2 separate regions of the Homo sapiens genome follow, and region 1 is linked to region 2. Evidence: fine-mapped expression QTL. A gene starts in region 2. The other region holds a variant in brackets. All regions are shown on one strand. Distances are between the middles of the regions.

Region 1 (8,315 bases), 22 kb after region 2:
TAAGGGAGGCCATCAGTAGAAAAGTTGGCGCTGATTGGAGAGGCTGGGCTGTACATTGCTTGCTAGGATACGGGACTGGAGTGTCCAAGCAGATCTGGTGGCCCTCAGCAGGGAGCAGGGAACTTCGGAGTTGCCTTGGCCACTCCTTTCATCTCCCCTCCTGCTCTCTCACCCCACCTCCCAGGTCTATACTCGCTATGGGAAGTGTTACACCTTCAACGCGGACCCGCGGAGCTCGCTGCCCAGCCGGGCAGGGGGCATGGGCAGTGGCCTGGAGATCATGCTGGACATCCAGCAGGAGGAGTACCTGCCCATCTGGAGGGAGACAAGTACGCAGGCCGGAAAGGGACAAGGGCCACCTTGGGGACTGGGGCCTGGGCCCTCTGCCTGGGATGGGTTTCCAAAGGTCCCCATCTCTGCTGTGCAGATGAGACGTCGTTTGAGGCAGGTATTCGGGTGCAGATCCACAGCCAGGAGGAGCCGCCCTACATCCACCAGCTGGGGTTCGGGGTGTCCCCAGGCTTCCAGACCTTTGTGTCCTGCCAGGAACAGCGGGTGAGCATCTCCTGCTAGGCCCTGGATTGGGCACAGGGCTCGCCTTTGGGCTCAGAGGGGATGTGGAGCAAACCTGCCCTCTAGAAGCTCAGAGCCTGCCAGCTGTGTTGACTTTGCTGGGGCTGTGGGCACTGGAGGACTGGGTGGGATTCCTGAGCATGACCTCATCATGCCCCACCTCTGCAGCTGACCTACCTGCCCCAGCCCTGGGGCAACTGCCGCGCAGAGAGTGAGCTCAGGGAGCCTGAGCTTCAGGGCTACTCGGCCTACAGTGTGTCTGCCTGCCGGCTGCGCTGTGAAAAGGAGGCCGTGCTTCAGCGCTGCCACTGCCGGATGGTGCACATGCCAGGTGGGCACCCCACCCCCAGCCAGCCCTCCATGCCACCCTGCTAGGCTCCAGAGCCTCCCGGGGCAAGGCACTGCTCATGTGCACAGGCAGGTGCATGTATACAACATGTGTATGTGTCTGTACCCGTGTGAGTGTGAGTGTTTGGGATTTTTAAACATGGTTTCACATATGCATGTGGGAATGCCGGCATGCAGATGCCTGTGTGCATGTTAATATGTATTTGTGTACGTGCATGCTCATTTATATCCGTGGTTGCGTATTTGTGGGGGTTGTGTGTGTGGTGTTCAAGCACATTTATGCAAATGTGTGCATATGTGTGTGCATGCATGTATGTGCTTACATTTGGGCGTGTGGGGGACAGGGGAAGTGATCGTAGATTCCAGGAATAATCTTCTCTCCTTTCAGGCAATGAGACCATCTGCCCACCAAATATCTACATCGAGTGTGCAGACCACACACTGGGTCCGTGCTGCCTACCCTTTCCTACCTCTCCATCAGCCTCTTCATGTCTCTGTCCACTCTTCTCCTCACTGTCTTGGATCCTCCCCTCCCAATCTCTTCCTGGAGGGTTCTTCCTGGGGGTTGAGCCTTAGCCCATACTTCAGTGGGGTTGGGGAGAGGTCTGCGGACCTCTGCAGGTACAGACACTTGGGTAAGTGGAGGCAGCAGGGTGGGGGGTTGCAGAGAAGCCAGGACTGGGAGTGAAGGTCTGGGCTTCTCATCTTGGTTCAGCCAATGAGCTCACCCACTTTGAGAAAGTGAAATGACTTCTCTCTTGGTCTCAGGAAAAATGCATTGCTGGCTATCGGTGTGGGTAAGGCAAACCCCATCTGTCCACAGATCTTGCCTGATCTGCAGTTCATCCATCTATCCATCCATTCATCGATTCGCGCATTCTCCAGACCTTTACAGCCTGTGCTGGGTACTGGAGGTGAGAGTGGGGGCGACAGCCCTGCCCTTGGAGAGCTTACACCCCGGCAGGGCTGTGGACAGCCATTCCCACACAGCCCGTCAACTCCTGGAGAGGGGAGCCTCGGGTGTGCTGCAAGGCCCCAAGGAGGGGTGTGCAGCCCTAGCCTGGGAAGGTAGGGAGGATTCCTAGAGGAAGGGACACATTAGCTGAGGCTTGATGGGTGTATAAGAGTCAGGTGCAAAGGGGGACATACACTGAAGACCTGTGGCCAGAAAGAGCATGCTGTGTCCGGGGCACTGAAAGGTCTGTGTGGCTGCAGGGCAGAGAACAGGGGAGGGAGTAGAAAGAGTAGAGGAGGGAGGCCAGGCACGGTGGCTCACAAGTGTAGACCCAGCACTTTGGGAGGCCAGGGTCTGTGGATCACTTGAGCCCAGTAGTTCAAGACCAGCCTGGGCAACATGGTGAGACCCTGTCTCTGCAAAAAATAAAAAAGTGAACTGGGTGTGGTGGTGCACATCTATAGTCCCACCTATTCGGGAGGCTGAGGCAAGAGGATAGGCTTGAGCCTGGGAGGTTGAGGCTGCGGTGAGCTGGGATCACACCATTGCACTCTAGTCTGAGCTACAGAGTTACCCTGTCTCAAAAAAAAAAAAAAAAAAAAAAAAAAAGAGGAGGGAGGCTCTAGGAAGCCAACAAAGGCCTGTGGCAAGGCAGGAATGCCAGGTGAGTCCAATGAGATAGGAGGGGAGGAGACTCAAAGCCAGGGACTGGCGAAGCTGGCTGCAGTAATCCAGACACCTGGGGCCTTGGGGCTGGGTTTGAGACACTGGGCAGCCACACACATCCAGCCCTTCTCTGTCCCCCACACCACCTGCATCTGTCACAGGGGTGATTGGAGATGTTTAGTGAAGGAACAGATATGTGATCAGGAGTAAGGTGCCTGCAAGGCACAGCGGTAGACCACAGAGCTAGCAACATGGGGAGCCTTCATTCCCACCAGGCCTGCAGGAGGAGAGAGAGACCTGTGGCTGTCCGAGAGGGCTGACTGACAGCAGCATGGCTGGAGGAGCACAGCCTCTGCCACCTACGGCCTGGCAGTGAGAAAGCCAGGCGGGAGAAATACCCTGGCATCTCTTCCCTCTCACCTTCTGTTTCTGCTGGGGCCTCCTGTTGGCCAAACTGAACCCAAAGCCAGAGGACAAGGGAGTTTAGTTGATGCATTTGGGGGAGATCAGCCTCATAGGGTGCAGAGCAAGGTTGAAGAGTGGAGAGTGGATCTGAAGGGGCAGGCAGAGAAAGCCCAGCACATTGATCCTGGGAAGCTTGTCGGTCTATTTGTTCTTCTGTTCGCCCATCCGTCGATCTGGCCATCTGCCATCCATCCATCCATCCATCCATCCATCCATCCATCCATCCATCCATGCATGCATCCCAGCATCCTCTCCACACCTCCTTGTGTGTCTGAGGCCTCACATAGTTGATTAGCTCTGGTGGATGGGCTGTGTTCTCCCTCTGGGCCACGAGGACCCCCCCCCAGTCCCAGGGGGTTGGGAGGGTGCTGGGGGGTTCTGCTTATATCTGCTCTCTGGAGCAGTCTGAAGCTGGTTCAGGCGGGGACCTGCAGCCAGTCCCCTCTAGGAAGCACTGGGGCTGGCCAGTAAAGGCCCTCAGTGTGGGTGTGCCTGCCTCAGGACGGCCCCTGGGCCTCCTCTCTGCAGCTGGTGGGCCACTGGACCACCCTTCTCCAACTCCCACTGTAGCTGCTACCTCTGTGTTGCAGACTCCCTGGGTGGGGGCCCTGAGGGCCCGTGCTTCTGCCCCACCCCCTGCAACCTGACACGCTATGGGAAAGAGATCTCCATGGTCAGGATCCCCAACAGGGGCTCAGCCCGGTACCTGGCGAGGAAGTACAACCGCAACGAGACCTACATACGGTATGTGTGTGTGTGTGTGGGGGGTGGCTGTGTGACTCTGTGTGTACGTGTGTGTGGGGGGTGGCTGTGTGACTCTGTGTGTACGTGTGTGTGAGTGTATGTGTGTATGTGTTTGTGTGTATGTGGGTGTGGGTGTGTATGTGTGTGGGGTGTATGTGGGTGTGTACATGCATGTGTGTGTGTGTCTGTGTGGGGGGCATGTATGTGTGTCTTGTGGGTGTGTGAGTGTGTGATGTGTGTGTGCATGCACACTTATGAGTGTATGTATCTGTGAATGGGTATGTGTGTGAGAGAATGTGTCTATGTCTGTGTGGGTCTGTGTGCGTGTGTGTGTGTGGTGGAGGCTGCCCTCAACAGGCGCTGGGCATGGTGGAGGCAGGGAGTGGGCCGCATCTCTATGATGAGTCTTCTACCGGGAATGCCCTTCATAGCTCTATTCTTCTCCTTCTTTTTTTTTTTTTTTTTTGAGACAGAGTCTTGCTCTGTCGCCCAGGCTGGAGTGCAGTGGCACAATCTTGGCTCACTGCAACCTCGACCTCCCAGGTTCAAGCGATTCTTCTCCCTCAGCCTCCCAAATAGCTGGGATTATAGGCACCCACAGCCATACCCAGCTAATTTTTGTCTTTTTAGTAGAGATGGGGTTTCACCATGTTGGCCAGGCTGGTCTTAAACTCCTGACCTCAAGTGATCTGCCGTCCTTGGTCTCCCAAAGTGCTGGGATTACAGGTGTGAGCCACCTTGCCTGGCCACAGCCCTTCTCTTCTAAGTAGCCCCACTCATTGCTCAAGTCACGTTCAGTGTCTCCACCTCCAGGGAAGTGCTTCCAGGTCCAAACACCTTTCATCTGAGTTCCCAGCACCCGTACAGATCTCTGTCATTACACATATGCCACATTTCAGAGTGCTTTGCTTATGCATCTTTCTTCCCTGCACGGAGGGAGAGGGACAGGATGAGACAGGAGAGGAACACAGTACCCTGCAGGGGGAGGCAGGAGGGACCGCCCTGAGGCTTGGGTCTGGTCCCCTCCAGCCAGTCTACACTTGTGGAGCGTGGTCTGGGTGCCAGGCTCAGTGCTGGGTTC[T/C]GTGGGGACAGATGATTATGACACAAAACTCATGCCACAATTTGTCAATGAGCCCACGTTTGATCATGTAGGACTGATTCTCAGGCCCCAGTCGGGGAGTGAAGCTGGGGAGGCGTGAGCCGGCCTCTGAGGGCCCTGGGTTTGGGGTCTGAGAGAGGAGGCAATGGGGAGGCGTCCAGTGACAGGACGTGGGGCGGTGGGGTGGTGTGGCGGGGAGCCTGAGCCATAGGCAGCTGTGTGGAGGAAGCAGAAAAGACGGCGGCTGGGGAGGAAGGTGCCGGGGACAGGCCACCGGCTGCCCAGGACACCGAGAAGGGGCATTGTGGAGTGGACTGACGGGCAACAGGGGTCACTGAAGGGTCCGCAGAGGCGTAAGGAGGAGGCAAAGGCAACACCACTGGCTGCTTTAGAGGAGGGAGGAGTGTTTCCTTCAGGTCCAGGAGTTGTGTTTTGCTCTCCCAGGCCCTTTGCTACCCCTCAAAAGATGAAGCTAACACACATCCGGGACTGCCTCCCCTCACAGCCTTGGGGAGTCCGGGGGGTAGTCACTGACTTCCCCATGTAGTGATCTCTGATCAGGATCTGCTGGATCCAGGATGCCCCTGCCAGCCTTCTCAGGAAGAGAGGCCCACACGGATACCCTGCTTCCTGTCTCCACAGGGAGAACTTCCTGGTCCTAGATGTCTTCTTTGAGGCCCTGACCTCTGAAGCCATGGAGCAGCGAGCAGCCTATGGCCTGTCAGCCCTGCTGGGTGAGACTGGTGTCCCTGCCCCCAGCTTGTGTGGGGGTGGATCGGCCCGGCCGCTCCCTCTGACACTGCTCTCCTGCTTCCCAGGAGACCTCGGGGGACAGATGGGCCTGTTCATTGGGGCCAGCATCCTCACGTTGCTGGAGATCCTCGACTACATCTATGAGGCAAGGGCCCTGGAGAAGGCAGGGTGGGAGTGGGGGCCGTGGGCAAAGCAGAAGGGGGCAGTGCGGGGTGCCTGGTGGAGCTGGCCTGGCTGGAAAGTCAGGTTCAGGGTTCTCTGCCAGGGTCCCCTGACTGGCTGGCAGGCCTGAGGGCTCAGAGTCAGGAGAAGGGGATGGGTGAGGAGGAGGAGGGTGTCCTACTGGGAGTTTGCTGTGGCAGTAAGTCCTGTGGGCAGCTGGGCATGGTAAGGCTCACGCTTCTCCTCAACCAAATTTCCTGAGCCCACTGCTGTCCCCGACCCTGAACCCCAAGGTGTCCTGGGATCGACTGAAGCGGGTATGGAGGCGTCCCAAGACCCCCCTGCGGACCTCCACTGGGGGCATCTCCACTTTGGGGCTTCAGGAGCTGAAGGAACAGGTGAGGACAAGCTCTAAATGCCTGCAGCATGCAGCCACACCTCCCCAGGACTGAATACATCCATTGTTTCTGAACCAGCCTGTGGAGGGGGCCCTGGAGCCTCTGCCCGAGGTGACAAGGAAAGGCTGGCGGTGTGAGCCCTGGGGGCACCACTTGAGCTCTCCCGGTCCCACTCTCTCTTTTCTTTCTCCTGCAGAGTCCCTGCCCGAGCCGGGGCCGAGTGGAGGGTGGGGGGGTCAGCAGTCTGCTCCCCAATCACCACCACCCCCACGGTCCCCCAGGAGGTCTCTTTGAAGATTTTGCTTGCTAGGACGGTGCTGTGACTGAAAGGACCCAGGAGTCTGGGACCCCTCCTGGGATCCCCAGCACATTCTCCTGCTCCTGGGAGAGGCCTGGGGGCGGTGCTCACTGGGAGGGCCAGGACTCAGTTCCTGCTCTCATCCTCCCCTGCCCTGATGTCAGCTGCTTTGCACAAAGGTCCTTCTTGTCCACACCCCTTATCCCCAGGCTGGTGCCCCGGGAGGGCTGGAGACCAGGCCATGGGCCCTCACGGAGAGGAAGGGAAGGAAGGAGAGGGAGGGGGAGGATAGAGCCCATCCCAGCCGGGGAGGGGGAGCCCTCTGTACATTTGTAAATATTTAGGGAAAGCCGGGTGGGGGGAGGGGATACAGATGTAGAAGGTGGGTAGGGCTACAGGGGTGGGTGATTTAGGGACAGCCAGGGTCCCAGCCCCAATGTCAGCAGGATAGGGAGAGCCCCAGGACTCAGGAGTGCTGGGCTGGTCCTACTTCCTGCCCCTCTCCAGGCCCAGCTCCCCTCTTGGCAGGGGGAGAGGATGGCCCAGCAGGCCTGGCCCAGCTCCCAGTTCCCCCTGCACCAGCCCCACCCCTAGAGTCCCTTCTATAGGGAGGGGGCAGGAGACCTTCCAGACTTCGGCTGAGCTTGGAGGGTGGGAAGGGAGCCTTCTCAGTCCTCTCTCCCTCCAGTCTGATTTTATAAAGTGCTGACGAGATTGGGAATAAAGAGGCATAAAGAATTCTCTGTGTGTATGTGTGACCAAGCACGCACTGGGGGCCGGGGTGAGGCTGGGCACATGCATGACTTGGTCCCGGGTGAAAGGAAAGGCAGGCCCCAGCAGGGGCAGGGGAGCCTGTGGTGCTCAGCCAGTCCTCCCTCCCCCACGCCTGCCTACCTTTTCAAAACCTCTGAATCACAAGTCCACACTTGGCCAGTTTATTAAAGGCAGGGAGCTTCGGCAGGGTCCAAAAGGGAGAAGTTGGGAGATGCCCCCTCCTCAGCTCCCTCCTTCCCCAACAACTCTTCTACAGCCCAGCCCCCAGGGCCCAGAGGCAGGGCTGGCGTCAGGCAGACTGTACTGCATAAATACGTGGAGGCCACAGCCCGAATCAGCAGCGTCAGGGGGCAGGGAAACTGGGTTTGGGATGAGAAGTGGGTGGCTCTGGGGGCACGTCCCCCAGTGCTTGTCCAGAGCCCAGGGACCCACAGAGCCAGAGAGGGGACCAGTGGGCCAGCTTGGGGTCTGGCTACGGCCAGCCCTGCCCAGCGAGGCTGGCAGGTGGCTCTGGTTTTGGGGGAGAAGTGGGGTGGGGTGTGGCCATGCCACGGCCCACGGGGACAGGGTGGGGTCAGGTGCTGTTGCCCTGCTCCTGTTCAAAGAGTAGCATGGCCAGCTGGGTTCGGGAGCCGAGGCCCTCAAGCACGCTCTGGAGGCAGCGGTGGTACAGGTCCTCACTGAGCCTCGCGCTGCACGTCTGGGCCCGGTAGCGCTGCAGCAGCGCCGGCTCCACCGCCCGCAGCACATGCAGACTGGAGAAGTGGAGGAACAGCTCGTACACATCCAGGCTCTCCAGCAGCTCCTCTTCTTGTTCTGAGGCTGCCGCCAGGCGCCCACGGGCTGCCACATAGTCGGAGTTGTAGAAGCAGGCCTCGCTGGCTGCCTGGCGATCAAAGCGGCCAGTGTCACGGCCCAGCTCTGGGGGCCCAGGCCCTTGTGGTGGGGCCACAGCTGGGTGGAAGGCTTGGAAATGCATGGGAAAGAAGGCCTGCCAGCCGGAGATGGCATGCATGCGGCAGCGGTTCAGGAAGTCAGGCGTGAGCACCGTGTCTGGCCCGGCCAGCAGGAACAGTGTGT
Region 2 (8,315 bases):
CCCGCTCCCCTTCCCCAGCCCCTCCTGCTCCCCTTCCTTCCCTGAGGCTCCCCTCTGCCGCCATGGCCACCTCTGAACTGCCCTGGGCTCTGGTGTGGAGGGAGTGGGGGACCTCACACACCCCAAGTACATCCTGGGAGGCTCAGAGAGCAGGAGGGCAGGGGGTGGTGAGGGGTGTCTGAGTTCAAGGGGTGATCTCTGGGAAGCCATCTGCCCTCCTTCCAAGCCCACACCCCTCCCCATGAAGAAGCCCCCTCTGAAATTGATCTTTGCCACAGCCTGGGCACTACAAGGTCTCGGTGCCAGCGCTGATCGCTGCGGCACCCTTGTGCTCCACTGGCCACCTCAAGGGGGTGCTGTGTGTTCTCAGTCTAGCCTTCAGCTCAGCTGCTAGGGTTGGCCCCTGCCACTGCCCCCACCCCCAAATCCGCCCGTTCTCGATCCTCGGTAGTGCGTCCCTCTGCTGCCCCTGACATGCATGGGGTGTGGGGGGCGGGGGCTCTGTCAATGGCAGAAAAGTCCCCCTCTCCTAGGACAGAGGAGAGAAGGATCAGGAATTCCTTCTCTCCTCTCCCCGTCGATGACCACCTCTTGGCCCCTGATGAAACCCTGCCGTCTTCACAGCCCTCACTTTTCCCACTTATCTCCTTGGCCCTAGTGTCTTGCCCTCAACCTTCTCCTCCCTGCCCCACCCCCCAATTCCCACACCGCTCCCCACATGCCCCTCGGAGCTCTAATCCCTCCTGCTGCTGTGCCGCCTTATCTGCTCCCAGCAGCTTTCGCTGCTGCAAAGCCCTCTCCCCCTCCTTCCTCAGCTCTCTCCGCTCTCTGACCAGCACCCCCTCCCGGCCAGCCTGTCTCTGCCACTCAGGCCCCCGCTGTGGCTACTGGCTGACACCGCCTCTGTACCCCATGCCCTTTGCCCTCTGCAGCCTCAGCTCCGAGGTTGTCGGCTGCACACCCACTCCCACGATGGCTGCGTCCATCCCAGCCCTCCCCCGCAGGCCCCACAGACTTTGTTAGTTTCTGGCCAGCCAGGATTTTTCATCTTCCTGCCCTCCCTTTCCTGGTGTCTTCCCCACTTCCTCCTGATGCCCCCATCCCATCTTGGACCTGGTGTCCTTATAGTCCCAGGGACCCGTTGCCTTGGCTTGGGAGTACCCGAAAGGAGATGGGAAGTGTTGGTATGAAACTCGGGAGAAGGTGCTGGGCTGGGTTGGCCCTAGAAAGATGGGGTGGGGGTGCAAGGAGTACTGGCGGACAGTGGGGGCAGGGCCTGGCGGTGGGACGCTAACCCTCTTCAGTCGCCTCAGATCACGTTCGGGACTCCCCACCCCCCTTCTCTGGGACTCTCATTAACCGCTTCTCCTGCCTCGTCCGCGGCATAAATAACCCAGATAAATCAGCCGCCGTCCGCCCCCCGCCCCTCGGCCCCTGCACAGCCCGTTTGTCACCGCTGTGTGCTCACCAGCCAGGCCTGGACCAGCCCAGCCCCAGCCCCCCCATCCTTGTCCCTTACCGCCCACATCTGTCCCACACTGGCTCATCACTTGGTCCGCACCAGGGCCAGGTGTCTGGGCTGGGGAGGGTGTCCTCTGGGTGCAGGGGGAGGGAGGCTGGGCATCTTTTGGAGAATGCTGTCTAGGAGTTCAGGGGGTCACAGCATTTTTGAATGGGGCCAGCCAGGCAAGGAATCTGGGCATCAGCTTGGGGGTTCCTGTGCTTTGAGAAAGCACCCTTGGAACCCCCCAGGTTGGATCCTGGGAGGTCTCTGGGTCTGCCTTTGGGGCACTTTGCCCAAACAAAATCTCCATGCCTCCTCCCAGGAACCTTGAGCCAGAAACCCACTGCTCTCCCTGTCTCTCCCCCCGACTGCATGCACTGCCCCCCCCCCACATTCTGCCCTGTTACCAAACCTCGTCCCAGTCCATCTACCACTCATTCTCACTGTCAGGAAGCTCATCCCCTGGGGGGCGGAGGCAGGTGAATTGGACTGGGAATAAATCTGAGGAATGGGGACAACCAGAGAGCAAAGGAACCTGGGATGAGGCTTCACATTCTGACCCCGCAACACCCAGCTCCCCGGCACTCCCAGTCCAGGGTCCCTAACAGCCCTGCCCCCTTTGCTCACACCCAGCTCAGGGCCTGGCCAGCCACACTTGTCCCTGATGCCTCACTGCAAGGGGCAGCTGGTCCCCCGGGAGTGGGTGGGGGAAGCAGGGAGGGGTGGGGGAGCTTGGGCGCAGGGCCGGGGTGGGGGTGGGGAAGAAGCTGGGCCGGGCCCCAGGGACCAGCTGGGCAATGAGCCGGGGAAGCAGCCGGGAGGCTAAATGAGGGAGATTATCACCCAACTGCAGCCGGGCAGAGAGGGAGGCAGGCAGGGAAGCGGGGAGAGGGAGGAGAGAGGGGACGGGGCCAGAGGCAAAGGGGGTATAGAGAGACAGGGAGGGGGCCAGAGGGCCTGGTGAGAAGCGGAGGGAAAGGTCAAGAGATGAGCTGGAAGTATGGGGGCACTCCCTCAGAACATCACCAGATTCCTGGAGATCTGGGAGACTGGAGGCTGGGGGCTTGGGGACAATTGGAGACAGCTGGCTGTGGGGCAGTGGTGGGGGTGTGCATGCAGCTAATTGCTGCTCCACTTCCTGGCAGCCTGGAGCTCCCCTCACAGCACCCCCCGCATGCCCCTTATACCCAGTTACCACCCGATTTCTTTCCTTATAGAGGTTGAAGGCATCCTGCCTACCCTCAGGAGGAAAGAGGATGTGATTTGTCTCATGATGGAGGCCAGTATGTTGTCGGGGAAGTGTGACCCCAAGATCTCAATAGATGGTGGGTGAATTTAGAGATATGTATGCACTCCAGGGTAGCAACGAGTGCTGCGGAGAGTTTGGGGGGCAGTTTCCCGCTTTCTTGGCAAAGCCCCAGACTAAAGTAACCTTAAAAAGCAATTAAATCACCTTTTAAAAAAAACAGTAAAGAAAAATCAATATTAGGAGAAAGGAGAAGAGAGAGAAGGATGGGGAGGAACAGTGGGGGGAGTTCTGGAAAGGTTTGGAAGTCTACCAGGGAGGGGAGAGCATAGGAGGCGGCTGCCTGGGCATGGGACAGAGAGAGGGGGCTGTCTGTGGTCACTTGGCCACTTTCAGTGCTAACTCAGCGGCTTTGTCCAATGCCAATCCCACTTTCCCTTCTGGGACACTATGTCCCAGCCAGATGCATCACCCTGCCCCAGGGGTCTTATCTTCCCAGCTTGGGGAACCAGCTGACCCAGACTCATTGGAGGCTTGTGGGGAAGCCCAGCTGTGGGGTCCCTGGGGAAGCCACTTTGCCTAAAGGCTAGGGACAACCTAAGCAGGGCACCACGCATGGTCAGGGCTGGGTGTGTGGGCAGGCTCCATGCTGGGGTGACCCTGATGGGGCCTGACCTGGCCTTGCAGCCAGGGTGGGCAAAGTGGCTTCCAGCTGCTAAGGGAGCCATCCCTAGGCCCCTCCCCTGGGGCCAGGCAGAGGCTGCGGGGCCAGGCCTGACGCAGGGGGCGGGGTGGCCGTTGGGCAGCGGGTGGACCTCGGGCTCTAATCCCCAGCAGCTGCCGTTTCCCTCAGATCGATTCCTTTCTCACTTTTTTTCTCAGCTGCTGGTTCTGCGGCTTGGATCGATGGAGCCACCTCCCCCCGCCCGTCCACGCTTCCTCTCCCTGCTGCTCATTAGCGCCCCGATTAATCAGCCCCCCTTTCCTCCCGGGGACAAGGGCTTCCTCCCCCGTGAGGGCACATGCTGTCGGATGGGGCCCCAGAGCACAAGCACTGATTCTTGCCACCCCCACCCTGGGGGCATGGATGCATCCCCTCCTGGCCAGTCAACTGAGGCTCCCACCCCCACCTATGATGATGGCCCACATGCCTGTTCCCCTCCACGAGAACACAGCAGACCCCTTAGGGCTCTCCTGCCCCACTCTGCCAGGCACCCCTCAAACCCCTTTCTTTAGGAGAGCATTCGCTCCCATTGACGCCCAGCACATCTTCCTGCTCCCTTCCACGCCCCCACTGGGGCTCTTCCTCTCCCTCCATTGCATGCCCTGTCCCCCTACATATAGAGCACCCCGGAAGCACACCTCCCCTTTGCTCCCTGGCTTGCTTACCCAACAGCCCTCCCCCGAAGCCTGGTTGTGGCAAGGGATTTGGGGAACATTTGGGGAAGCAAAGTGGCCACAGATATGCAAGCTGGCCAGGGTGCTGTCTGTCCCAGACATATGAATGACTGAGATTGGGGTTGGGGGCAAAATGAGGGTGAGGGCAGCCAGCCTCCCAGAGGGGGCAGGGGCATGGTGGGTGTTGAAGTCTGGAGCAAAGCTCCAGGGAAGCTGAGAATCTTGAAGTCACAGTTGTCCCCTGGTCTGTCTAGCCTGCCCTCCTCTGCCCCCCTCCCTCCGTCATTCAAACAAGTGGCTCTCTCAAGGAGTTTCTGGAAGCTGCTGTGAGTCGGGTAGTGGGATCAGGTGGTGGCTGGGTGCTGGAGTCAGGAGTCTCAGAGGCCAGGAGGTGGGGGGATAGAGTTGGCTGACCCTTCATGGGGTGTGGGCCAGGAAAGTGGCAAAGAATGAGCTGAGGACCCTGGGCACGGCACCCTTCCCTGGGTGGCCAGGAAGTGGGGAGATCTGGGGACCCAGTGAGCGGCTAGGGTGCAGCAGGAGTTTGGGGGATAGCCCCAGTCTTGGGATCTCTGTCCTGGGCTGGGGACTGCCCCCTCCCCTGGCCTGGCTCCTGACGCCCGTGCTGCCGGTGAAACGCTGTTGACATGTCCTGAATTATTAAGCGTGGGGAGGGCTCCGGAGCACATGCTGAGCGGAGCGGCTGGGGCTGCGCGGCGTGGCGGAGCAGCGCTCGCTCCCTCGCTCACTCGCTCGCTCGCAGGGACACACGCAGGGGCTGACAGCTGTGCTGGTGCTGATAAGGGAAGCCACAAGGAGACGATCGAGGAGAGAGACAAGCGGCAGCAGAGGCAGCAGCGGCAGAGGCAGCACCAGGGCTGCGGAGCTGCTGGGAGTGGGAGTGACTCCCCCACCTCGGGCCCCCACCCTGTCCCTGTCCTCTTCCCGCTTGCCCTGAGTTTAGAAGAGCAGCCGCTGCCACCACTGCCACTCGGGAGGGCACCAGGGCTGCTGGCTAGGGAGGGACAGGGCAGGGAGGCTCTGGCCAGTCCCAGCAGCCGGGGACAGATGCCGATCGAGATTGTGTGCAAAATCAAATTTGCTGAGGAGGATGCGAAACCCAAGGAGAAGGAGGCAGGGGATGAGCAGAGCCTCCTCGGGGCTGTTGCCCCTGGAGCAGCCCCCCGAGACCTGGCCACCTTTGCCAGCACCAGCACCCTGCATGGACTGGGCCGGGCCTGTGGCCCAGGCCCCCACGGACTGCGCAGAACCCTGTGGGCACTGGCCCTACTCACCTCGCTGGCTGCCTTCCTGTACCAGGCGGCTGGCCTGGCCCGGGGCTACCTGACCCGGCCTCACCTGGTGGCAATGGACCCCGCTGCCCCAGCCCCAGTGGCGGGCTTCCCGGCTGTCACCCTCTGCAATATCAACCGCTTCCGGCATTCGGCACTCAGCGATGCCGACATCTTCCACCTGGCCAATCTGACAGGGCTGCCCCCCAAAGACCGGGATGGGCACCGTGCGGCTGGCCTGCGCTACCCAGAGCCTGACATGGTAGACATCCTCAACCGCACTGGCCACCAGCTCGCCGACATGCTTAAGAGCTGCAACTTCAGTGGGCATCACTGCTCCGCCAGCAACTTCTCTGTGGTGAGTTCTGCCAGCTGGGCTGCCTGGCCTTGGATGGCCGGAGGCTGGGGAGTGGGGAGGAGTGGTGGCAGTGGTGTACAGGGGCATCCTCAACAGGGCTTCCCTTCATTCCACCACCAGAGGCTGGCCTCGTGTTTCCCCAAGCCTGGCGTCTCCCTCTGGCTTCCCAGCCATGGAGCAGTGGCCGCTCATAGGGGCTTACCCTGGGGCGCCTGCTGCTCCTCTTCTTGGTTTTGCTGCTGCTGCAGTGCCCAGGTCTGGGAGTTGGGGTGGGGGTTCCTAGGCATGGGCCCAGGTGTCCTGGAGCTGGCTGGCTTGCAGGGAACGCACGCACCATCCCAAGGCCAGACCAACTGACTCTCACTTTTCTCTTGCTCCCTTTTTCTTCTGAGGCTACTGGATTCTTCCCACCAAACGAAGGAGATAGGGAGGGGAGGTTTGGGGGGCTCCATCTAGGGAAGGACCCCGGGTGGCCTCCTGGGGAGCTGGCCTGGTGGGCAGGCTGGAGAGACCCGGTCTTCAGGACACTGGGTGCCAGTGTCTCTTCTGGATCTCTGTGTGTCTCTCACATGCCTGCCTCACAGACTCCCTCACACATCCCTCTTTCATTCTGCCCTCCAGCCCTCCTGGGGTCCAGTCCCCCTCTGTCTCCTGTTCTAGCGGCTCCCATGCCCAGCTCTGGCTCTTACACTGGGAATCACTGGTTCACTCTTATGTGCATAACTCACCCTCACTGCTGCCCCAGCACGGGTGCATGCACACATGCACACGCACACACGCACACGCACTGCTGGGGGACACAGTTTCCTGCACACTCCCTCTCTCACTCACTGTCCCTGTCACTACACTCACATGCACACCTGCACACCCACACCCAGAGAGCTACTCATCTCCATGTCTAGCTCCCAGCTCTCGCTTAGCTGCCAAGGACAGGGTCCCACTGTGGATGCCATCCCTTCTCATGACACCCCCACCCCCATCTATCCCAACCGCTGCTCCCCATTTGGAGACTGCTGGCGCCATCTGTCACCTACGTGTGAGCACAAACACAAGCACCCTCTCCGGGAGAGGGGTGTGAGCTTGGGCTGCTCTGCCATGCACGCCTCCCACAGTCAGGTATGTGAGGGGGTGGGCGTGTCTTGTACACTGCCTGTCTGTCAGGGCTCCATTCACCCATAGTCACAGGGTATCTAGTATTCATGGCGCTCGAGATGCTTGTCCCTAGTCCACAGTTTGCTCCCAGCATTGTGTGTGCATGCGTGTATGTTTCATCCTCGTTGCCACTGCCCAGTGCATATGCAAATGTTTGGCGTCAACATGGTGCCCACTCCAGCCCAGCCTCCAGCAGCCAGCCCCAGTGATAGGGACCCCCGCCAGGTTCTCACTCACCCGCTGCCTCAGGATCACCAGGAAACATGCTCCAGCCAACGAGGTTCCTGGCCCCCACCATGCCTGCAGTGTCTGGGGCCTCCCGCCATTGGGCAGGGGAGTTAGGTAGAAATAGAGGGACAGGAGCAGGAGCATTGTGCAGGGAGAAGAGTCGGGGGCATTGGCCTGTTGTCCGGCTGTACACCCCCTTTCCTAGGGAAAAGCACTGCTCCCCAAAGCAAGGGTTGGTAGAGTCCCCGAGGAGGAGGTGGGATATGGAGGGTGAGTGTGGCCTTTGGGATCCATAGGGCTCTGCTGTCCTCAATCCTCACCACTCCGTATTGGGAGCTGGGCAGAGCTCAGTCTTAGCAGGTGCTGTTGGGACAGAAATCAATGGGATCTTTGTGTCCCCGAGCGGGAGTTGGGGGTGGGCAGGAAAGGGGAAGGGTGATGAGACCTCAGTGAGAGGAAAGGAGAGGAAGAGCTGGAGGGGGTGAGGAAGTAAGGGGAGGGAGGCAGAGGGTTCTGCTTGGTCTCCAGGCTAGGAGGCGGTGCCTGGAGGATACAGGAACGGGGATCCTCTGATCAAGGCTGGTGAGTCCCCGGAATCCTGGGGATGGCCTGGAGGAGTGTGGGTGGATTTCCCACAGGCCCTCTGGTACCCTGGGGCTGGAGAAAGGAGGATGGTAGAAGTCCGTGGGCTGAGGTTCTGGCCCTGGTGCAGGACAGTGGGGGTAGAGGGCATAGCTAGCATTGGGGGACAGGAATTCCCCTTTGGGATTTCCATTTCCCCTGTCTCCAGCCCAGCCTCCTACTCTTCTGCACATACTGCATCCCCCGTCTGCTGAGTGTAACTCTGTCTTGGGTCTGGCATTCAAGGGCTGAGTCTGCTGCAGATTCACCAGGGTCTGGAATTACAGATTGGGCTGGGGGCCCATGATCCATGGTAGTGGGGAAGATGGGGTGTATTACAGGGGAAAGACTGGAGAATGGGCATGGAGATGAAGATATGGGGTCTCCAAAAAGGACGTGAGGTCCATAATCAGCTCTGTGGTGAGGACCTGGAGTCAATGATGGGGATTTGGGGTCTATGGTGGGGAGATGGGTATGTGAGCTGGTTGGTGGGGAGCCTGCCGGGGTATGGGTGGT

Which allele goes with the higher level. Positions count from the first base shown, and alleles are read on the strand shown. Sizes are in standard deviations (SD) of each study's normalised expression.
In carriers of allele C in region 1, the expression in testis of the gene that starts at base 4,974 in region 2 tends to be higher than with T alone (large effect, 0.87 SD a copy in GTEx).

Evidence for each region. PIP is the estimated chance that this variant, and not a neighbour inherited with it, causes the effect.
Region 1: its variant is fine-mapped to the expression of ASIC4 in testis (GTEx, PIP 0.93).

What each region holds. Positions count from the first base shown.
Region 1 is chr2:219,531,574-219,539,888 of GRCh38, forward strand. ASIC4 (acid sensing ion channel subunit family member 4) reads left to right here. Exons shown (of 10, transcript NM_018674.6): 2 at 185-329; 3 at 428-555; 4 at 742-904; 5 at 1,310-1,366; 6 at 3,598-3,751; 7 at 5,493-5,584; 8 at 5,669-5,748; 9 at 6,059-6,163; 10 at 6,360-7,199. The coding sequence ends at 6,473. CHPF (chondroitin polymerizing factor) reads right to left here. Exons shown (of 4, transcript NM_024536.6): 4 at 7,381-8,315. The coding sequence ends at 7,810. Among named protein-coding and RNA genes, the nearest start is that of CHPF, 8.1 kb to the right of the region's middle. RefSeq lists enhancers at 670-1,267, 6,091-6,645, 6,646-7,201. The variant T/C (reference allele first, on the strand shown) is at 4,833.
Region 2 is chr2:219,509,509-219,517,823 of GRCh38, forward strand. ASIC4 (acid sensing ion channel subunit family member 4) reads left to right here and starts at 4,974. Exons shown (of 10, transcript NM_018674.6): 1 at 4,974-5,798. The coding sequence starts at 5,217. It overlaps ASIC4-AS1 (ASIC4 antisense RNA 1), which reads right to left and starts at 7,578. Exons shown (of 2, transcript XR_923921.2): 1 at 7,188-7,578. RefSeq lists enhancers at 452-501, 696-840, 2,971-3,612, a cis regulatory region at 759-776 and silencers at 2,199-2,493, 4,897-5,072.